Homo sapiens: one gene and its partners. The protein of the gene in region 1 interacts with the protein of each later gene in a pairwise test. Each region holds a gene or a part of one and is shown on either strand. Other genes may lie near its edges.

The links.
Region 2: the proteins of PITPNC1 (region 1) and ANKS6 interact in binary tests that used the Homo sapiens proteins (3 or more experiments, as listed by UniProt).
Region 3: the proteins of PITPNC1 (region 1) and SCAMP5 interact in binary tests that used the Homo sapiens proteins (3 or more experiments, as listed by UniProt).

The regions. Positions count from the first base shown.
Region 1 is NC_000017.11:67,666,657-67,674,655, reverse strand, and holds part of PITPNC1 (cytoplasmic phosphatidylinositol transfer protein 1), read right to left. Parts: intron 5,149-7,999; coding exon 4,993-5,148; intron 1-4,992.
Region 2 is NC_000009.12:98,730,766-98,737,811, reverse strand, and holds the end of ANKS6 (ankyrin repeat and SAM domain-containing protein 6), read left to right. Parts: intron 1-1,188; coding exon 1,189-1,293; 3' UTR 1,294-5,803; downstream 5,804-7,046.
Region 3 is NC_000015.10:74,991,051-74,999,561, reverse strand, and holds the start of SCAMP5 (secretory carrier-associated membrane protein 5), read right to left. Parts: upstream 4,000-8,511; 5' UTR 3,889-3,999; intron 3,541-3,888; exon of another isoform or gene 3,248-3,540; coding exon of another isoform or gene 3,242-3,247; intron 2,329-3,241; exon of another isoform or gene 2,246-2,328; intron 1-2,245. UniProt on the Homo sapiens protein: Required for the calcium-dependent exocytosis of signal sequence-containing cytokines such as CCL5. Probably acts in cooperation with the SNARE machinery.

The DNA of each region.
Region 1 (7,999 bases):
ACTTAACATTCCCTCTTTTCTGATGACATATCCTAAAAAGTGAACAGCACTTAACATTCCCTCTTTTCTGATGACATATCCTAAAAAGTGAACAGCACTTAACATTCCCTCTTTTCTGATGACATATCCTAAATACTGATTTTTTTTTTTTTTTGAGACAGTCTTGCTCTGTCCCCCAGGCTGAAGTGCAGTGGTGCAATCTCAACTCACTATAACCTCTGCCTCTTGTGTTTAAGCGATTCTTGTGCCTTAGCCTCCTCAGTAGCTGGGACTACAGGTGCGCACCACCATGCCTGGCTAATTTTTGTATTTTTAGTACAGACAGGGTTTCGCCATGTTGTCCAGGCTGGTCTCAAACTCCCGGCCTCGAGCAGTTCACCTGTCTTGGCCTCCCAAAGTGCTGGGATTACAGGTGTGAGCCACTTCACCCAGCCTGATTCAATTTTTTAATTGTACATTTTAAAATAACTTAAGAGTGTAATTGGATTCTTTGTAACACAAAGGATAAATGCTGGAGGGGATGGATACCCCATTCCTCACATTGTGCCTATTTCACATTGCAGGCCTTATGAAAACATCTCATGTACCCCCTAAATGTTTACACCTACTATGTACCCACAAAAAATTATTTAAAAAATAAATATTGATTCAATTTTTCTTTTTATCTTTTTTTTTTTTTTTTTTTTTTTGAGACGGAGTCTCGCTCTGTCCCCTAGGCTGGAGTGCAGTGGCGCCATCTCGGCTCACTGCGATCTCGGCTCACTGTAACCTCCGCTTCCCTGGTTCAAGTGATTCTCCTGCCTCAGCCTCCTGAGTAGCTGGGATTACAGGTGCCTGTCACCATGCCCGGCTAATTTTTGTATTTTTTTAGTAGAGACGGGGTTTCACCATGTTGGTCAGGCTGGTCTCGAACCCCTGATCTTGTGATCTGCCTGCCTCGGCCTCCCAAAGTGCTGGGATTACAGGCATGAGCCACCACGCCTGGCCTCAATTTTTAAACAAGCATAAATGAATGTGTGAGATACAAGATAAGTAAATATCCTTTTAGGTTTGACTTTCATGTAATAGAAGAGGGGGAAAAAGGCCGTTTACCATTGAAAGGATGAAAAAAGAGACCTGAACTAGAATAGAACGTAATGGGAATGACAAGCTTGACTGGACACAAAAAGGATGAAATTGTTTCTTATGGTGACACATAATGGCAATAGAAGGCTAAGGAAAATAGTATATACCATTTGTGTGTGTGTGTGTGTCTGCGTGTGTGAGATACTGTTCATGTGTTTTTATTTCATGGTATTCTTTTCCATCCTGGGTAAATATGTCTTTTTACATTTCTTGGATACTCACAGTATCCCTGTAACATTCCTTTCTTCCTGCCAAACAAATCCAGTGATTGTGAAAAACCTCTCGTGGAAGGTTCAAGCATGTTTCAATAAATGAAGGATTTTAATTCAGTGAATTTGCAGAAACAAGGAAAGCATTTATAATGAAGTGTTTATGACTCCAGGCCTCTGGATATCTAGTGAGGCTTTTATGACTTGAAAGTAGGAAACACATAATGAATACAAGAAACAACACACAGCTATACACACTTGAGTGCTGAGTGTCTCAAATTCATGGAAATCAAAAGAACAGCATCGAGGCATCAGTAAATGTACCCTATTACACGAAGCACAACACAGCTGTCGGCTGGAAACCAGAATTCAATAATGTGCTCATGGCTCGCTTTCGAACATTTTTTTCCCCTTAACTGTGAATAGATTCTTAAAAAAACAAAGGTGTTCAGAGAAAGGCATCCCTGGCACCTTCAACCCATGCAAATGCTAGCCTCAGATACTCATTAGCGACTCACGTGCGAGAGCAGGTGCGTTTCTGGAGTGTCAATAACACTTCCTTATATTTGGAAAGGGCAAGGCATAAATCTTACAGGTATTTTCAGGAAACAGATTCTCAAAACTAGCCTGAGTCATCTGTGAGAAAAGAAACACAGTGGACCCTGGGGCAATATAAATATGGCCTTTTAAATTATTATTATTATTATTATTATTATTATTTTGGAGACAGAGTCTTGCTCTGTCCCCCAGGCTGTAGTGCAGTGGCGCGACCTAGGCTCACTGCAACCTCTACTTCCTGGGTTCAAGTGATTCTCCTGCCTCGGCCTCTGGAGTAGCTGGGACTACAGTCACCTGTCACCACGCCCAGCTAATTTTTGTATTTTTAGTAGAGATGAGAGTTCACCATGTTGGCCAGGCTGGTCTCGAACTACTCCTGACCTCAAGTGATCTGCCTGCCTCGGCCTCTCAAAGTGCTGGGATTACAGGTGTGAACCACGCCCAGCCTTATTTTTATTTTGTATTATTCTCTTTTTAACTGACAACTCTGCCTTATTAAATATGCTTTGTGAGTGGAAAACACACTATGAAGCCGGGCATGGTGGCTCACGACTGTAAACCCAGTACTTTGGGAGGCCGAGGCAGGCAAATCACTTAAGGTTAGGAGTTCGAGACTGGCCTGGCTAACATGGTGAAACCCCGTCTCTACTAATAATACAAAAGTTAGCCTGGTGTGGTGGCATGCACCTGTGCCTCAGCTACTCAGGAGGCTCAGGCACAAGAATTGCTTGAACCTGGGAGGTGGAGGTTGCAGTGAGCCGAGATCATGTCACTGCACTCCAGCCTGGGCAACAGATTGAGACTCCATCTCAAAAAAACAAAACAAAACAAAATAATACTATGATAGTGGCCCTAGTAAGAGGAAGTCTTTTTACCTTAAAAAGCCACACACAAAAAGGGATGCTGTGGGAAACCAAGGAAGACACTGCCTTAGATAGACACAAAGCTGAGGCTGGAAAACATTTACTTTGGGAGCTGCAATTGCTTTCCTGTGCAATAATCAGGACACAGGAGGAAAACAGGAGATCCTGGAGCTTGATTTCTACGTATCACATTTCATTCTGGCTCCTGGCTGGCTGGCTGGGTTCTGGAGCACGGGAAAGGAGTGGCATGCTTCTCTGTTCAAGAAAACACCCAGGGCTCTCATGTTTGTGCCAGAGTCTGCCATTACCGTGAGCCTGAGTTATGAGGGTTCAAGAGACTGGCAGTCTAGTTCTTGGACCTAAATTCCAGAATTAAACTTTTTATTGTTAACTGGCCCCCAATCTCAATAGACAAATCCATCTAAGTAACAAAAAGCTCAGTGCATTAAGGTTAAATTCCAGTGACTCCAAAATAATTTTGGCAAGCTACTCTTATCAGTTTTTAAGTGGAAAAATAAACAGATAACCAGCCTATCTGGAATGTAGAGACAATTTGGGTAGTATTTATTCTTATGAAAATGAGAGCAGCTACAAAGGGCAATGCTCAACATTGCATTTCCCATTTTTTTCTCCCATGAGGGACAGAGTCATGTTAGAAACCCTGAGAAAATATGACTCTTCACCAAGTGGGATTCTGCTACAAAATGAACATGCCGGCCGGGCACGGTGGGTCATGTCTGTAATCCCAGCACTTTGGGAGGCCGAGGCAGATAGATCAGGAGGTCAAGAGATCGAGACCATCCCTGCCAACATGGTGAAACTCCATCTCTACTAAAAATACAAAAATTAGCTGGGCATGGTGGCGTGCGCACCTCCCAGTAGTCCCAGCTACTCGGGAGGCTGAGGCAGGATAATCACTTGAACCCGGGAGGCAGAGGTTGCAGTGAGCTGAGATTGTGCCACTGTACTCCAGCCTGGCGACAGAGTGAGACTCCGTCTCAAAACAACAGCAGCAGCAACAACAACAAAAAACCAAAATGAACATGTTTAGCCAAAGTAGGTTTACAATTGAAATCTGCATCCCGAGGCTGTTAACAATTATTTGGTAACAGAATTATTCTTATTATTTCCTTTTTTTTTTTTTTTTTTTGAGATGGAGTCTTGCTCTGTCACCCAGGCTGGAGTGCAGCAGCACGATCTTGGCTCACTGCAACCTCTGCCTCCTGGGTTCAAGCAATTCTCCCTGCCTCAGCCTCCTGAGTAGCTGGGATTATAGGCACGTGCCACCACACCCGGCTAATTTTTTTGTATTTTTAGCAGAGACAGGGTTTCACCAGGTTGGCCAGGCTGGTCTCGAACTCCTGACCTCAAGTGATCCACCTGCCTCAGCCTCCCAAAGGGCTGGTATTACAGGCATGAGCCACCACACCTGGCTACTTTAGTAACAGAATTATTAAAGAAGCAGAAATGCTGGGGTATACTGTCTAATGGGACTATTGGGATTTCTTGTTCTACCTCTGGGCATCTTCTGCTTAGGTGCTTACATTTGTAGATCTTTTGGGTGGCAATTAACCTTAGGGGCTGTGCTCACAGATAAGCCCTTTGGCTGTTTCCCAAGTTTCTCTGTCTGGGAGTAGATGAGTCCAATACCAAACTGAGAAGTGTGTTTCCCAAATACGCTTGCCTAATAGACATGGAGGTCACAGAATGAGAGATGGGGCATAAAACATCTATTAGTGGAAGAAAATTGAACCTATGCATAAAATGCATTTTCATCCAAAAAGTATTTTTTATTTTTTTATTTTTTATTTTTATTTCTTATTTTTTGAGACAGAGTTTCTCTCTTATTGCCCAGGCTGGAGTGCAATAATACGATCTTGGTTCACTGCAATCTCTGCCTCCCGGGTTCAAGTAATTCTCCTGCCTCAGCCTCCTGAGTAGCTGGGTTACAGGCACCCACCACCATGCCCAGCTAATGTTTTTGTATTTTTAGTAGAGACAGGGTTTCACCATGTTGGCCAGGCCGGTCTTGAACTCTTGGCCTCAAGTGATCTACCCGCCTCGGCCTCCCAAAGTGCTAGGATTACAGGTGTTGGCCACCCCAACCGGCCCAAAAAGTGTTTTTGAGATGCAGTGACCTGATGTATTTGTGCACCTGTTGTGTATCATGGACTCCAATTTGGCAATATAGACAGTTACCTTGTCCACAGCCCAGGAACTGCTGTTGGACCACTTACCTTGTGTACAAATTGTTCCACTCTGGTCTGAAGCCCCCAGACCTCAAACTTCACAGTCACCAGCTTGTAGGAGCACATGATAGGCTGATGACTATCTCTCCAGCCTTCCCTCAACTGTCCCCGTCCTGTCTTCTCTGACTTGAAGTGCTTAGGATCCTAGAAAAAAAAAAATCAAAGAAATTGATATATTAAAAGTTTGACCATCATTATTAAATGTCAGGAATAAGTATTAAATAACATAGAAATAGGGCTGGGTGTGGTGGCTCACGCCTGTAATCCCAGCACTTTGGGAGGCTGAGGCGGGCGGATCACCTGAGGTCGGGAGTTCAAGACCAGCCTGACCAACATGGAGAAACCCCATCTCTACTAAAAATACAAAAATTAGCTGGGCATGGTGGTAATCCCACCTACTGCCTATCATCCCAGCTACTCGGGAGGCTAAGGCAGGAGAATTGCTTGAACCCGAGAGGCAGAGGTTGTGGTGAGCCAAGATTGCGCCATTGCACTCTAGCCTAGGTAACAAGAGCGAAACTCCATCTCAAAAACAAACAAACAAACATAGAGACAGAAAGTAGATTAGTAGTTGACATGGATTGAGGAAAGGAAGGGATGTAGAGTGATTATGAATGGATATAACATTTCCTCTTGGAGTGATGAAAACATTCTGGTATTAGACAGTGGTGACAGTTGCACAACCTTGTGCATATGCGAAAAACCACTGAATTGCACATTTATTTAAAAGGGTGAATTATATTGTGTCTCAATTTTTTCTTTTCTCTTTTTTTCTTTCTTTCTTTTTTTTGAGATGGAGTCTCGCTCTGTCGCCCAGGCTGGAGTGCAGTGGTGCGATCTCGGCTCACTGCAAGCTCCACCTCCCGGGTTCACGCCATTCTCCTGTCTTAGCCTCCCGAGTAGCTGGGACTACAGGTGCCCGCCACCACGCCTGGCTAATTTTTTTGTTTTTAGTAGAGACGGGGTTTCACTGTGTTAGCCAGGATGGTCTCGATCTCCTGACCTCGTGATCTGCCCGCCTCGGCCTCCCAAAGTGCTGGGATTACAGGTGTGAGCCACCGTGCCTGGCCTCAATTTTTTCTTTTCTTCTTTTGTAGAGATGGGTCTCACTATGTTGCCCAGGCTGGTCTCCAACTTCTCACCTCAAGTGATCCTCCCTTCTTGGCCTCCCAAAGTACTGGGATTACAGGTGTGAGCCACCATACCTGGCCTCACGACAGCTTTAAATACAGGAGGCAAAAACTGGAAACAGTCCAAATGTTCATAAGCAAGAAACTAGACAGATAAATTGTGGTCTAGGTGCACAATGGAATACTACACAGCAATGAAAAAGAACAAATGGCTGATACATGCAAAAACGTGTACAACTCTCACTGATGCTATGTTAAGCAAAAGTAGCCAAATGCAATAGCATATACATTGTATGATTCAAATTGAAGTTCAAGAACAAGCAAAACTTTATGTATGGTGATAAAAGTTAGATGAGCAGTAATCTCTTTGGGGGTGGGGGCTTGGTGCAAAGGGACATGAAGGAAACTTCTGGGATGATTATATGTTGACCTGGATGTAACGTGTACACATTCACTGAGTTTTACACTTAAGATTTGTATTATACTTCAATTACAAGAATGAAAAAAACAGGTAAAAGGGTTTTTTTGTTGTTGTTGTTTTTGAGATGGAGTCTTGCTCTGTCACCCAGGCTGGAGTGCAGTGGTTTGATCTTGGCTCACCCCAACCTCTGCCTCCTGAGTTCAAGCAATTCTCCTGCCTCAACCTCCTAAGTAGCTGGGATCACAGGCACCCGCCACCATGCCCAGCTAATTTTTGTATTTTTAATAGAGACCGGGTTTTGCCATGTTGGCCAGGCTGGTCTCGAACTCCTGAACGCGAGTGATCCACCCACCTTGGCCTCCCAAAGTGCTAGGCCTCCCAAAGTACAAGCATGAACCACTGTGCCCAGCAAGGGTTTTTTTTTTTTTTTAAGTTTAATCATCCAATATTTGTCTAATGATTGCCATTAGCCAATCATTTGCTGATTATTTCATTAGAAGATTATTTTTTTCAGAGATACCTTAGAACATGTAAACTATATAAAACCCAGTAATTATGCTTAAATATGTATGTATGAGCTAATTTTCAGTACTTTTTTTTTTTTTTTTTTGAGAAAGGATCATGGCTCACTGCGGCCTTGACCTCCCAGGCTCAAGTAATCCTCCTGCCTCAGCCTCCCAAGTAGCTGGGACTACAGGTGCACACTACCATGCCTGGCTAATTTTTGTATTTTTTGTAGAGATGGGGTATTGCCATGTTGCCCAGGCTAGTCTCAAGCTCCTAGGCTTAAGTGATCTGCCCACCTCGGCCTCCCAGAGTGCTGGTATTAAAGGCGTGGGTCACCGGGCCCAGCCAGTTTTCATTATCATAAAGAAGACGTGCAGCTGCTCCAGGATCTGCTGTCCAGCTGTGGGTTTGGGGCTAGTCCTGGTCCTGTTCACGGGGATGTTGGACCCCAGGAAGGGAAAGAACCTCACAGCACACAGCGGAGTCTACAGGCTGAAGCAGAAAATTGGCATCTCCCCTCCCAGGAGAAACCTGGCAGTCAAGGGGTCCTGTGTTGAGAAGTAGATAGGATGAGACACAAAATCAAATTGGCTGGGACAGCCCCAGCCCTTTTAATGCAGACCAGACTGTGTCTCAGGGGTGGGCTTGGGAGGTAAAAGCAGGCTGCTTACAAATAAAGACAGGTTTATTCTCTCAGATCTGGCCGTGGCTCCGCCAAGGCCATCTGGCACTGGCCTCTAAAGAGGGCTTTCAGGCTGCCCTTGACTTCCCTTACAGATCTGCCTCCTCTGTTAGGACCTTTTTGCTATGGTGACCACTTCCACAACTGTAGCTCCCCTAAAAAACACAGTGCACTCCCAGGGCCAACTTCCATGCCAGCTGACGCCAGGCCTTCATCAAAGTAGCGGGTGAATGCTTGCCCTCCTGCCTCTTCTCA
Region 2 (7,046 bases), on another chromosome or scaffold:
ATGCCTCCACATTTGTTCTTTTTGCTTATTCTTGCTTTGGCTACGCGGGCTCTTTTTCAGTTCCATATGAATTTTAGAATTGTTTTTTCTAATTTTGTGGAGAATGATGGTGATATTTTTATGGGAATTGCATTGAATTTGTAGATTGCTTTTGACAATATGGGCATTTTCACAATATTGATTCTCTCCATCCATGAGCATGGGATGTGTTTCCACTTGTTTGTGTCATCTATGATTTATTTCAGCAGTGTTTTCTAGTTTTCCTTGTAGAGGTCTTTCACCTCCTTGGTTAGGTATATTCCTAAGTATTTTTTTTTTTTATTTTTTTGCAGCTATTATAGAAGTGGTTGAGTTCTTGATTCGATTCTCAGCTTGGTCACTGTTGTTGTATAGAAGAGCTACTGATTTGTGTACGTTAATCTTGTATCCAGAAACTTTGCTGAATTCTTTTATCAGTTCTAGGAGCTTTCTGGAGCTGTCTTTAGGGTTTTCTAGGTAAACGATCATGTCATCAGCAAACAGCGACAGTTTGACTTCCTGTCTGATTGCTCTGGCTAGGACGCAGTCTCTGTTCTTAACCTCTGAGTATTGCTGCCTCCGAGCCTGGAATGCAGTGATGATGTTTTCTGGGCTTAACAGAACATTCACATCCACCCTCTTTTCTCATCTGAAAATGTGTGTATAGGGGGCAGGGGGCGTTGTAGGAATAGAGTGAGAAGTGAATCTCTGTGAAGACAAATCCGGCAGCTTTTGGGCAAAGGGAAGCAAAGGCAGTTTAAACTCTTATCCTGTAGCAGAAGGACACTTGGCTCCCATTGAATTATCTGGAAATCTAAGGACTGGAAAGATGCACAGAGGCGCAGGAAAGGAGACCTCGAATCCGGGCCGTGCGACTCGGGAGAAGTCAGTCCTGCCCCGGACTCGGCCTCCCACTCTGTCCAGGGGTTTGGGGTCCTGCATCCCAGGGCCTCTCCAGCATTGACAGGCTGCGATGGTGGGTACTGGGGAGATTCTGACTCAGTATGTTTTTATTGAACTCGGTACTCTTTCAGTTAGGTAATTTATTTTCCCCAAGACGCCCATGGGTTTTTGAAGTATGAGTTGAACATTAACAACACTGTGTCAATTGAATTAATGGTTAAAAGGTTTAATAAGACTTTCTGTGTCTGTTTTCAATTTCCTCCACAGGGACGCGAGAGACAAATTTTACAGGAAACCATTCACAACTTTCACTCTTCCTTTGAGAGCAGTGCCAGCAACACCAGGGCCCCTGGCAACAGCCCCTGTGCGTGATCCTCCTTCCCGCAGCCACCAGCGTGAGCTCTCTGAATCCCGGGACCCCTTCACGTGGCCACAGCCCCAGCCCTGCCCCCGTCACACTGCTGTGCCTTAGTCATGTTGTTCCCTTTGCTCGGGATGCCCACTTCACGTCGACGGCATTCATTGGTAGTACTTCTTGCTGCAACAAACTTCAACACACAGAGACAGATTCCCATGTAACAGTCCAGTGGGGGTGCTTCTGCTTGGCAGGTTGGTTCACACAGTGATGCAGGGACTCAGCTCCTTTCATCCTGTGCTCTGCCCTCCCCGGGAGCCTCAGAGTTTGCTTCTGGCTGGCGGCAAGGGAAAGGGACGATGGAGAAGGCACGGCTGCTTCTTACCTGCCTTGCTCTTAACTGACACACATCACTCCTGCTCACGTCCTCTTGGCCACTGGTAGTCATGTGGCCCCACCTGGATGCAGAGGAGGCCAGGATGTGCAGTCTCCACATAGTGGCTTCCCAGCAACAACTTTTGACTTAGATGGGGGGTATGTATTATGGTGAGAGGTTAGCCTTCCTGGCACATCTTCCCTTAAAACTTCTAACTTGCCCCTCCTAGTCCAAGTCACCTCTCAGATGAAGTCTTTTTTGACCCCCTTTCAGCCACTGGGTCCCTTAGTGCTGTGTATGTGACTGCTGTAGCATTCCACTGCACCTGCTGCATACAGCTTACATTGGAGATGTGTATGTCAAACGCATTTTTCTTTATTGCAAAGAGAGTCTATTATAGAAGGAAAGAAGTGGAGGCCTGCTGTGTGGATCCCTTCTTCTTCCTAGCTTTCAGTTTCCTTATCTGCAAAGTGGAAGGTCAGACCAGATGATGCTCTGGTACTCCACAGTGCTCACCTGTATCACTGCAGGGCTTTCTGCACTGAAAGTGGAAGCAGAAGGCTAATGGGTCACATTGTGTAAAGGTCTCTGGTGCTCAAAGTTTCTAGGCAAAGAAGTGAAAATTTGGAATTTTGTCTACATCCTATTAATGCTGTGTTCCTCAAAAGGGAATTGGCTTGTGTAGTTTCCTACCATATCATATTTTATTAAATTAGAGGGGCCCTGACTTTTAAAACCCACTGGCTTTCTGAAGTGTTTTCCAGTGAATGACTCATTCAGCCAGTGCTTGTTGCATTTATGTTAGCTACCAGGTGCCAAGTGTGCAGACACAATACAGAGCCTTCAGGCTCTCGACAGGCAAGAGAACACCTGTAAATAGATGGTCCCGACATTGAGAGGCAGCATGGTAGAGTGGGCAGACCTTGTGCTCTGGACTCAGGTTCAAAGTTCAGATGAAGCTCAATGGCCTCTTAGTTGGAGCTTAGAACCAGTATGCCCAAAGTGCTGGGTCTGCAGGAAGTACCCAGTCGATGGTAGGCTGCACAGAATTCTGATCTCTACCTTGAGCCATGCTGAGCCACAAGTTGGTCTCCTTGGGAGGTGCCATCTCTCATCTGTCCCTCCCCCAGCCATGAAAGCCCATTCCCCTATGCTGGCTTTCAGAGGCTGTCGTTAACTTACTGCCCAGAGCCTCGTAGTTTTCTTCCCCTGCCCTGATGGTTGGGTGTTTTTCCTTTAAATTCTCTCAGCCTTACACTCACAGAAGCCAACTTTCCACAGGACTGAAGACAAAGTGTTTCATTTAGCTGTTACTGATAGACACCTTTACAAAGGTTACTAATGTCCCAGCCTTTTTAAGGAGACACACTCATTCATCCCCTACTATGTGCTGGCAGCTTTACCTTTGTCATTTCATCCTCATGGCCACCCTGGAGGTGGCATTGTGTAACCTCATCTTGCACATTCGGGAAACGGATGCTTAGGAGAGGGAAGCAGCTTGCCAGTTAAACAGCCCAGAAGGAGCAGATCTGGGGTCAGAACCGGACCTGGTGGGCTTGCAAGCCTGTGCCTTTTCCACTAACTCCTATAGACTCCTGGAGCTAGAAGCACTTGTGATTCTTGTTTTAATTTACTGATGGCTTCAGGGGTTAACAGTAGGCCTAGAATTGTTTGCCTCTGAAATTCATGGCCCCTGACGTTATGTGCTTTGAGGTTTTGTGCCTGCTTTTTGCTGTGGTCCTGTTTTTTTCATAACAATATACTGGTATAGCTTCCACTCAGGTAAGTTTGATTGAACAATGATACACAGCTGCACCGGGGGGTCACCTTTTCACAAATGTAGACCTCCATGAACTCATTGGATGACCCTGGACAGAGCGGGGCTATTCCCATTTTGCAGACAGGACAGCAGAGGCTCCAGACAATGCCTTTCCTTTCTTTTTCACTGGACTCAAGTGTCCAAGGCTTTTCATCCTAGGAAGTTTGTGTGCTGGTTCACAAGAGGTCCCTGGCACCCTTTCTGGGGATGTTTGGATGCGGCTGGTAGGCAGGGAAGAGAAAGGGCACCCCAGCGGGGGCATGTGTGGAGGCAGCACGGAACATGTAGGTTATAGATCGTCAGGGAGGAGGGGTCAGTTGGGTGCTTGTTTTTCTGATTTTTGGTCCTTGATCACCCCCTTCCCTTCCCACACGTGTCCCCAGCCTGCCTGTGGCTGTTCCCCCCACAAGAAGCACCTCCCTTGCTTGGCAACCTTCACCAGCATTTCCCAAAAGTATGCTCCTGGGAACCCTAGTTCCACAGGATAATAGGTTTTTCATAAAGAAACGTAGGGTGTGTATGTGAAAGTGGGGTGAGGTTCCCTGGTTGAGTAGGTTTGGCAGACACTAAAGCGAGCTACACGATCATCTTTGCTACAGGCCTCTCACAACCTTCAGCATGCCAGCATGGGTCAGGCCTCTTCACAGGGCCAAGAAACTCATAGCATCTCCCACATTACTCTCATCACTTCTCCAAGGTGCTTTTGCAAGACTGGAATTCCTTGGACACCATTGGAGAAGCCCCGCTTTTTCTGGAACAGCGGCAACCAAGAGGCCTTGCAGCCCTGGAAGTGGGTCAGGGCCCTTGGTGGTCACCTTTTTCTCCCCAGCAGCTCTGCAGAGGTGGCCTGCTTGGCAGTGGGACATCAGGGGACCGGTCCTGCTTTGAGATGGCAGGGTCCCTGTTCTGAGAGCTCTCCAGCCTGAGGGCATTGAGCTGAGGCTCCACCCTGAGCTCTCCTGCAGGGTGGAGGGCATTGTTTCCCAGCACCCAGGCAGTGTCTTGCTGGTGTGTCGTGAGTGCTGGATGTCCAAGTCCCTGCTGGCCACGGAGGGCTCCTGCCTCTCTTCTTCAGCGCCACAAAATTACATGGAGGCCAGCTGGTTTTGTGAGGAGATTGTTTATTTTTTAATTCTTTTGTTTACCGAACGTTTACTGAGCATCTACCCTGTGCCAGCCCTACTCGTACGCTCTGTCTCCAAAGATGAAAAAGGACTTCTCTGCCCTCAAGGGAACCCCACAGTATCTTAGAGGAGACAATCATGTCGGTGAGATGGTGTGGTGATGAAGCCTGCTGGGTATACAGCTCAGGGAAAGTCATCGATGATGGCTCAGGCTCAGCCTGGGCACGCCCCAGAGGAGAGAGATGGAGTGGGGCCTCAAAGGGCAGGTTTAGGCAGAAAAGAAAAAGGGCATTCCAGCTGGGGCATGTGCAAAGGCAGCACGTAATGTGTAAGTTCTAGATCGTCAGGGAGGAAGGGTCAGTTGGGTGCCTGTTTTTCTGTTTTTAGTCCTTTAAAATGAGTAGAAGCAACCTGTTACCCTGGAAAGAGCACTGGACATAGACCTAGTGCTGCGTGATGTTGAGCACGTTTCTTCTTCCCTTTGAGTCCCAGTTTCCCTTTTGGTTACAGGGGGATAGTAGCCCCCAGGGATCATGTGAAAGTGAGAAAGCCCTTTTCACACTGTGGAGCGGTGCAGATGTGGGAAACCTCAAAGATGGTTGCCCATTTTAAATCCTTTCATCTCTCATCTCTCTTTCTTCTCTCCCTTCTGCCCTGACGTAGCCATGGTTGGGTGGGTGAGGCCAGAAGAAACTGCCTCCGGCAAGAGGTAGCAGCCGCTCAGGTGGCTCTGCTGGCATCGGAGCCCACAGAAGTGAGGAGTGGCCGATGGACCTGCCCTCCAAATGTGCCTGACTCTGGGTCTTGCTGTCACTGGATTTCCTGGCATGGCAGACAGAAAGAAAGATAGTTTGACCAAGTCGTAGAAGCTGATCCAGCGGGTAAAAAGGGGGCAGGGAACTCGTCCCTTTTATTCTTGCCTCAGAGCTGCCTGAAGACATGGGCCAGGCCGGAGGCTGGACAACTTTGGATAACGCTGACCTGTACTTCCAAGTAAATGCCTCCTGAAGAGCCCGGGACCCTTCCTGGGAGAATTCTGCAGCCAGAATGAAGGTGCCATCAGCAGGAGGCACTGTGAAGCACCATCCTGTCGCTGTCCTTGTCCATTCCTAGCAAGTTAATCGTGTCTTGTTAACCAGCAGTTCCTGTTCAACGTGTAAAGAGACCTGATGTTTTCCCTAATAAAGCTGATAACAGATTTTGCAGGACTGGCTTGCAGAAGGAATCTCCCTGGGTGAGGTGGGTCCTCTGGCCTCAGGGGGCTCTGCTCCTCCTTAACATGCAGCCTAAGAGTGGATTTAGACCCTGCCTTAATTTCAGCCCCCCAGCTGAGAATCCAGTCCCAAAAATAACAGTTGTTGTTGCCAAAGCTTGGGAATGATAGAAGGGAAATCCACACAGAATCACGGGTAGTGAGCTCGAGCACAAAGCCCAGTTCATTGTCCTCGGCTCCCCTCCCCGGCACTGCGCTTCCTTCCTAAGGCTGAGACCACCTCTCCCTGCCCTTGAGAACTCCCTTTGCTCCAGGACCCCCGCCAACTTGGGGCCCTGCCCAGCAGAGTGGAGCCATCTCGCATCAGCATAGGGACCTCCCAGGTTCCCATTTCCTGCTGGAGCCCTCTCCAAGGCTGAGACACAGGGCATGGCCATCCTTGTGTCGGAGACCCTGTCTCCACCTCTAGGTTTGGCCTTCCCCTATAGGGCCCTCACTAGGGCCAGTGTATTCACTGCCAAGAGTCTAGAATGCCATTTTAGTTTCTGCCCAAGGGAGTGTCTATTTTCCTCACCATAGACACTTTTTATTATTTTATTGTTATGTTTGTGCAGGGACTTAATTCTTTGAAAGATTATTGTTTGTCGGCCTGTGTATATTAAATGATGTAAAGTTATCTTCCCACTTTGACTACATTCATCCAAGGTGTAAAACACTGCCCAAATTCCTGCCTGTCATGGCTGCTATGGAGCGAGTCCCTGGGTCTGCCAGGCGCAGCTTCTAGAAGTCACCTTGCCTCATCTTCACAGGAACCCTGTGAGGCAGACTGAAACTCCTTTTTCTGTCAGTATGGTGACTGTGGCACACAGATGCTAACCAACTTTGTTGAGGTCACACAGCTGACAAGGGACAGTCTGGTCTGAGTGCAGGCCTCACACTCTTCCTGGTGTCTTGCTGCGTGTCGTCAGCACAGAGGGGAACGTGGAATTTGAATAAGCCCAGGCAACAAGACAAATGAAACCTGTTGTTTAGCCTCTGCAACTTGTTCACAATTTGAAGCCTCTAACTTGTTCATTTGGAGAGGAGGGCTTCTGAAAGCTATAAATAGCCTAGTGATTCTATTTCTTTTAGGAATTCTCACAAGTGGCCTGGCACGGCGGCTCATGCCTGTAATCCCAACAATTTAGGAGGCCGAGGCAGAAGGATCGCTTGAGGTCAGGAGTTCAGGGTTGCAGTAA
Region 3 (8,511 bases), on another chromosome or scaffold:
AGGGCAGTGGTGCGATCTCGGCTCACTGCAAGCTCCGCCTCGGGAAAACATGGGGGTGGTTCCACCTCCCCCACACACACCCCAACCACCCTCTACATGAGCAAAGGGCCTGGGGAGAGTAGTCCAGTTTGGAATACTCCTCCCATGGAATAGAAAGGGGAACTGATGGGAATGAGGAGAGGGGTTTCTATAAGTGATGAAGGGATGGCTGAGACTGGAGACCCTTCCTGGCAGCTCGGGTGACACACAGGCAAAGTGGCAAAGTGGTTGAGGGCATGGAGTTCAGAAAGAACACGGAAGAGGCAATTCATGAGATGGAGAAAATGGAGGTGTCTGAGAACTAGAGGTCTCCTTGAGGTCAGAGCACATAAAGCATTAGTTAGACTGTGGTCAGAGAGAAATACTAGAGTTTAAGATTTCAGAGGTGGCCACATGCCAATGAGGACCACATTCAGATGTAGTTGGTTAAAATGGTGACTGAAAGAGGCACTACCTCCCCTGAGACAATGGGACATGGAGTGGGAGACTGTGGTCCAGCACTAAAGACCTCCAGGAAAACAAGGAAGCAGAGGGAGAGGAGAAAACAACTAGAACATAGGGGCCTCAAAGGAGGAGTCTTCTCCCTAACCGGGCTCCAGCCTAACCCCTGTCCCTGGTCCCAGACAATCTCCCAAAAGTCTGCTTACAGTTCCAGAGAAGTCAGTGCAGCAAAGTATGAATAATTCAGAGCAGAAACCAGAGCAGAGGGCAAAGCTGCCTTGTTTGTATATAAAGGTTAGGGCAGAGAGAATCTGGGGCTTGAGAGGGTGGTAAAAGACTAGGGTCACAGAAATGGAAGGCTCCAGGCTTCTCTGCCCTTGTTTCTGGGAAGCCTTTGAAATGGGGGGTGGGGGGTTGGAGGGGAAGACAGCAATCACTGGCCTCTGCAAACCAAAGTTCTTTTTTTTTTTTTTTTTGAGATGGAGTTTCACTCTGTTGCCCAGGCTGGAGTGCAGTGGCACGATCTCAGCTAACTACAACCTCCTCCACCCAAGTTCGAACTATTCTCCTGCCTCAGCTTCCCTAGTAACTGGGATTACAGGCGTGCACCACCATGCCTGGCTAATTTTTGTATTTTTACTAGAGACACGGTTTCACCATGTTGGCCAGGCTGGTCTCGAACTCCTGACCTCAGGTGATCCACCCGCCTCGGCCTCCCCAAGTGCTGGGATTACAGGCATGAGCCACCGCGCCGGCCAAACCAAAGTTCTTAGACTACAAAACAGAAGAATTAGCAATCTGCTCAACTGATAATCTTTTATAATGGGGATAAGGGCTACATATCCCTCCAAAGATGTAGGCCTAGGGAAACACCTTAATTATCAATAAGATAGCAGTTACTACCTGAATTTTGTTCATGAAACCCTAACTATAATGTATTCCATTCCTTATTGTGAAGCTAGGACAGAAGCCCCCACAGTGGGGAGACTGAGGCCTCTGGCAGCAGACGAGGGTCAAGCCTGGCTTCAGATCAGGCCAGAGTCCTGGGGCTAACTCCAGGGCTCCCTGCTCACCAGTATGGGCCCCTCATCCCTGGCACAGAAATGGTGATTCCTTTTTGCTGCCCAGAGCCAACCTGCTAAGATGGAAGTTTCCCCCTCCTGCTCTACCTCCAATCCCCTCATCCCACTCCTAGCCCCATCTTCTGCCCTGAAATCCCAGAACTATGAATAATCCTCAGAAAACAGCAGTCTCCTGGCCATGCTGTCCCTGTCCTACTGATGACTATTCAGTAGCCTCCTACAGATCTTTGCCTGGCATTCAAGGCTTTGTGCCAGTCAGCTACAAACCTCCCTCCCACCACCTTTGGCTGCTCACAGGTTGACCTGCCTCCTACACTCCCAGCCTCATGCAGGAGATCATCTCTAGCCGCCCCCTCTGCTTCCAGTGCCCCTAAATTGGCAGCACTATCAGCTCCTCTAAGTCCTGCTACCTTCTCACATCCCACCCCTTCTGGGAAGCCTTTCCAAAAATCGCTGCTCTGCATCCCGCTGCATACATTTTGAGTCAGTCATTGGGCACTAAGTGTTCACGTCTTCTCCCATAATCTCCTCACTCCCTCCTGGATGGAGTTTCCAGGAGGGACCCAGCACAGAGCACAGTCAATCCATATACTTGCTTAAGACTTGGACACTTTCCCAATGGGTGGGAGGGAGGCAATTAACGCCCTCCCCCAATCAGATTAAGCCCAAAGCTGCTGTCAAACCTGCTGTATCACACTTCCTCCAGGAAACCTTCCGAAACTCCTGGCTGGCAGCAGGGAAGGAAGTGCAGCCTGTAAAGGAAATGCTGTGGGGGGCAAGGGGTGGGGATAGGGACAGGGAGGCAGAGGGATAGGGGAGGAAAGGAAAAGGAAGAGGGAGAAGAAAGGGGGGATGCTCTAAACTAGAACAAGGAGCATCCTCAAGGGAGGTCACTACTTAGTCCTATTATTTCATCTCTAGAGAAAGGTGCTAGAAAGAGATGCCCAGAGAGGGGAGGTGACTTGGGGAACTTGCTTGGAGGTGGCCACTCAGGAAACGGTTAAAGAAACAGCCACAGAGCCCAAGGTCTCTCTCTAGAACTCCCCTCCTGGGACCCCACTAACTCTCCAAGGGGTTTGCTAAACCTAAGACCCTCTTTCAGGGGCCCATTCACCAGAGACAGCCCCCTCTCAGCTCTAGAGACTTTGCCCTAAGGCTCACCAAGCCCAGAACAAACCTAAGTTAGCAAGACCTGTGTAGCCCCAAACAAAATCTCTCTGCCAATCATGCCCCTGCAAGAACCATCTCCCTCTTTCAGAGCCCTGCTCCGTGAGGCAGAACATGTAGGGGACAGGTTGCAAATTTCTCCAGACTCCACCACCCCATGGGCAGTCACATGGCTGAGCTCCCAGGCTCAGCCCCCAACAGCTGTGCTCGTTTTCATCCCTGTGCCTTTGCCCATACATTCTCCTGGAATGCCCTCTCTTGCCTCTCCTCCCACCCAAATCCCATCACCTCTGGAAGTCTCCTATTCGCTAGCTGTCGCCTCCCTTTCTCTCTGTGTCCCTGGGAAAGTCTGCCAGGCCCTCACTGATCTCCCCATCGGGAAGCTGGGACATTACTTGTTTAAGCCGCCTGTGACAGTGAATGCTCAGTCCGAGTCTCTACTTGGTTCCCCCAACCCACAGACCAGGAGCTCCCCGAGGCGGAGGACAAGGATCGGTTCACAAACACCTCACCTCCATCCTCGTGACCTCCGGCCAGCGTTGAAATGAGCCAAATCCGGCGCCCCCAACTCACCACCCAAAGCCCTGATGGAGCCCGCCTGGTGGCCTGGGCCAGCGCGCCCGTCGCCTCGCAACCCTGGGGCGGCTGAGGTCCGCCATCCAAAGGTCGGCCGCCCGAGGGAGGTGAGGGAAGTCAACCCGGGTCCACCTGCAGGCGCTAGTTGGAAGGAAAGGCCCAAAGGAAGCCACGGGCACCCCCTTCCAGTCGCCCCCATCCCCGGCTGCGCACGCCATCTCCAGAAGGCCGGTTTCCAGGGAACGCCAGGTGGGGCTGGCGGGGGGGATGGAGGGCCCAAAGCTCAGGCTCCAGATCCAGGGTCTGACGTCACCCAAAGGCCCAGTTCCCTCTGCGGGAGCCACAGATGGGAATGGGGGGGCTTGGGGGGCTCGGGGGGCCTGGGTGCGCCCTGAGCGCTCTCCCCCAGCCCCAAACAGTAAAGGTCACCTCCACTCCCACCTCTCCAGCAGTTCGGCCTTCTTCCTGCATCCAAAGGTGAAGTGTAGGAGGAACAAAGCTGCAGCCAGCGACCCCCACACCTCTCGCCCCGCGCCCAGCTTCCCTTCAAAGCTCTCCTCCCAGCCTTCATGCCCAGACTCACCTGCCGCGGCCGTTCGGCTGCCGAAAGGCCGCAGCGCTGCGCTGAGCTGCGCTGCACCCGAGCGATGCGGCGCGGAGCCGGCCGCGAGCCGCTCCGGGGCTGGGGGCGGGGAGCGCGCGCGCGCGCGCGCGCGCCCGAGGCCGTCTCTGCGCGCGCCCGCGCCGCCACTGCCTGCAGCAGTCACTCTCGCGAGACTTCCGCTCTGCTCCTAAGGCTGCTCCTCCTGAGCTCGCGAGAAGGACGACCCGGCCGCCCCGGCATCTTCCAGGAGCTGTCCGAGGTGCTAGTTCCCGGGCCCCGGCCGGATCAGGTGGTTGACGGGCACCTCAGGGACAAGAGCCTGGCGTGTAGGTGGAAGGAAGAGACCCAGAGATGGGAGCCTGGCACCAGCAGCCAGAGCCTCAGCTTCCATATCTGTAAACTGGGGAGAATAACCTCCTATACCTATGCCAGGAGCCTCTGGGACGTGCCAGAAAGGAGTGAGAAAGAGCTGAAAGCAGGAGAGTGTGGTGACTGCGGAAGGTCCTTCAGATCTGCAGGCGCAGGGGGAAAGAGAGAACAGAGGACGGAAGATCGGAGATGATATTCAGAGAGGCAAGGACACAGATCCACGGAAAGACGACATAGGAGGACGAGAAAGAAGAGCTGCAAACAGAGACAGAGACACACGGAGAGAGAGACTGAGATGAGAGCTCAAGGCCTGGAGAGAAAAAAGACATGGAAAGATAAGATAGGTAAGGGAGCATAATGAAGCAAGAAAGAGGCAAGAAATAGAGACAAATTACGCAAAGGAGCAGAGAGAGAGAGAGAGAGAGAGGAGAGGCTTAGAAAAAGAAAGAGACTCAGAAAAAGGAATGAAAGAGACAGTGATATGCAGAGATGAATACCAAGAGAGAGTAGAGGCAAGGGTAAATGTTTAAAAACCCAGAGCTTTGGAGGGTTGAGAGAGACCCACTTGGAGAGATGGGCTGGGAGTGAAGACAGGATTTTATTGTGATTGGTGTTTACATAGTAAACCTCCGTGGGATCTCTACAGGCAGGGCCAGGGCCACTGTCTGTCCTGCCAGCCAATTGCTCCTTCCCCTACACCATACACCCACCCTCCACCCCCCACCCACACCATCCTAGGCCTGGAAGGGGGCCTCAGTGGGTGGGAGACACTGCAGGGATTCTTTGCCTAGAATAAGGGCCCATTGTCTGGCTCCATCCTGCCAGGAGTGGGGCCTCACTCCCACAGCTGGCATGAAAAGGGGGTGGCAGTGAAAAAAGGCAGACAAGAACTAGTGTGGCAGAGGGGAAAAGGAGGGAGAGAGCCTCGGTGCCTGGGAAGGGCTGAGCAGGAAGCATCATCCTGCCACCAGGCCAACCAGGAAGGAAGGGTCCTGGGCTTCGGGGCAGGACAACTGGGTTCTGTGTCAGTCCTGTCCCTGGTTGACCCACATGCTGTCTCTCCCTGCTATAATGCAAGCCAAGGCTGATTTACAGAGCTGTGGAGAGCAGCCAATGAGATGACAACTGGGAACCTGTCGAAGTTATCAAGTGTGGCTGCTACAGGGAAAATGTTGGGAGTCCATGTGGGCCTCAGGAAAGATATAGGGGTTCACATAGGCCTTTAGGAGAGAGATCTGAGGTCCACACTGGGATCCACAAGGAAGATGTCTGGAAACCACATGGAATTTATAGGAGATATCTTGTGGTTCATGTAGGTCCTACAAGGGAAATATTGGGGTTCCCGTCTGATGACCACGGACAATTTTTCTCCACTCAGAAGAATCAGAAGGGTCTCCTATTTGATAAACAACTAACGTAGGAAGAGTGAGCAGGTCCAAAGTCAGAAGCCCACCTTTGTCCCAGTAGATTGTACCTTTCCTATTCAGGTAAATGGAAGGGAACAATGATCACTTAAACAAACGTTTACTTAATAGGCATTTGCTGGTTACCTACCATGAGAAGAAGCATACAGCAGTGGTTAAGAATATCAACCTAGAAGGCAGACCTTGCCCCTTCCCTGCAGTGTGAATTTGAGAAGGTACTAATCCTCACTGAACCTTAGTTTTCCACATATGTAAAATAAGGATGGTGATAATGGGACCCGTGTCTTAGGGTTCCTGCAAGGATGAAATGAATTAATACATGCAGACACATGTAACATATGGGACTGCCTGGTACACAGTAAGTATTTAATGATCTGTAAATAGATGGATAAAACAATTTTTAAAAATTAAAAATAAAGTATTTAAGCCAGGCACGGTGGGTCACGCCTATAATCCCAGCACTTTGGGAGGCCAAGGCAGGCGAATCACTTGAGGTCAGGAGTTCGAGACCAGCCTGGCCAACATGGTGAAACTTCATCTCTGCTAAAAATACAGAAATAGCCAGCCATGGTGGTGTGCACCTGTAATCCCAGCTACTCAGGAGGCTGAGGCACAAGAATCCCTTGAACCCAGGAGGTGGAGGTTGCAGTGAGCCTAGATGACGCCACTGCACTCCAGCCTAGGCGACAGACCAAGACTTCCTCTCAAAAAAATAAATAAATAAAGTATTTAAAGGTGCTAGCTCAAACTGCGTGGCAGGCACTGGAGACATGTCTTTGTTGTAGTGGAGGGCAGGGGTGAGAGAGCCTGTGCCAAACCATGCAGTAACACATTTCAAGCTTCTTTGCAGATGTGGAGAATGTCACATCTGCTCATATGCCATTACTCAAAGCAAGTCACATGGGTAAGCCCAAAATTAATTCATGGGGGTCAGGGAGGTATGCTACCCATACAGGATGCCAGATAAGTCACATGACAAATGGTGGGGACATTTAATCCCATTGCAGAGGGAGCAAGTAACTGGGAACAGGAACCCAATCAATCAATGTCCCACAGGGCCAGCTCCAGGCTGCTTATCTTTCCCTGCCTAGCTATGCCTGAATGAGGCATGTCCATCCAAGAGTCTCTGGGAGAATATTTATGTTACAGGCCAGTAAACGAATAAAAATAGAAGTATTTACTGAACTTTTAATGTCTGAGTGAAATGCTAAACTGCATGACCATCCTAAGAAATAAGTGCTATTGGGCCGGGCGCAGTGGCTCACACCTCTAATCCCAGCACTTTGGGAGGCCAAGGCGGGTGAATCACAAGGTCAAGAGATCGAGACCATCCTGGCTAATACGGTGAAACCCGGTCTCTACTGAAAATACAAAAAATTAGCCGAGCATGAGAGCGTGTGCCTGTAGTCCCAGCTGCTGGGAGGCTGAGGCAGGAGAATGGCATGAACCCAGGAGGCGGAGCTTGCAGTGAGCCGAGATCCCGCCACTGCACTCCAGCCTGGGCGACAGAGCGAGACTCGGTCTCAAAAAAAAAAAAAAAGAAAGAAAGAAAGAAGTGATACTATCCATATTCTATAGATGAGCCAAGTGAAATTCAGAGAGGTAAAGTGATCTGCCCAAGGAAATTGGATGGATAGATCTAAGAAATAAAAGAACCACTATCTTTAGGCTGGGTATCCCCAGAGGCAGACACTGAGATAAGGATGTTCATATAAATGGTCCATTTGAGAGATGATTCCGTGGAGCACTAGTAGGAGAGAGGGGGAGTGAAACAAACAAATGAAGAAAAGCAATATAGGGTGCAATAATCAGCAGATTACCACTGTGGACAAATGGGGCTTGACTGTATTGGGCATCTCTGGGAGAGTGAAGAAGACAAGGTACTCATCCCACTGAAGGAGTGATGACACTGATGATTTCTTCATTAGTTGAGAGCTGTTCCTGGCACCTCCAGCCTGCCGGAGTGCCTTCTGAGCAGAGAGCACCCTCAGGCAGAAAATCCCAGGGGCTTATAGTAAAAAAACATCAGGAGTGGCTAAAGGGGTATGGGAAGGGCACTGTGTTGTGACATCTACCACAGCCAGGACCTAAACCCATCAGCCTGGCTCCTGAGCCATCTTATGTCACCTCCATGATAATCCTGTTAATCACGTTATCATCCATGCTGTTAGTCCTGTGGAAGTTTACAATATGGAGTCTTCTTTCTTAACAAAGAGCCTCCCCTGACTGGCGCGGTGGCTCATGCCTGTAATCCCAACACTTTGGGAAGCCAAGGTGGGTGGATCACCTGAGGTCAGGAGTTCGAGACTAGCCTGGCCAACATGGTAAAACCCCGTCTCTACTAAAGATACAAAAATTAGCCGGGTGTGGTGGCGGGCGCCTGTAATCCCAGCTACTTGGGAGGCTGAAGCAGGGAAATCGCTTGAACCCGGAAAGCAGAGGTTGCAGTGAGCCGAGATTGTGCCATTGCACTCCAGCCTGGGGGACAAGAGTGAGACTTCATCTCAAAGAAAAAAAAAAAGTTTTTTAAATTAGCTTGACATGGTAGCATGCTCCTGTAGTCTTGGTTAGTTGGGAGGCTGAGGTGGAAGGACCACATTAAGCCTGAGATATTGAGGCTACAGTAAACCATGTTCTTCAACCACTGCACTCCAGCCTGGGCAACAAAGTGAGACCCTGCCAAAAAAGAAAGAAAGAAAGAAAGAAAGAAAGAAAGAAAGAAAGAAAGAAAGAAAGAAAGAAAGAAAGAAAGAAAGAAAGAAAGAAAGAAAGAAAGAAAGAAAGAAAGAAAGAAAGAAAGAAAGAAAGA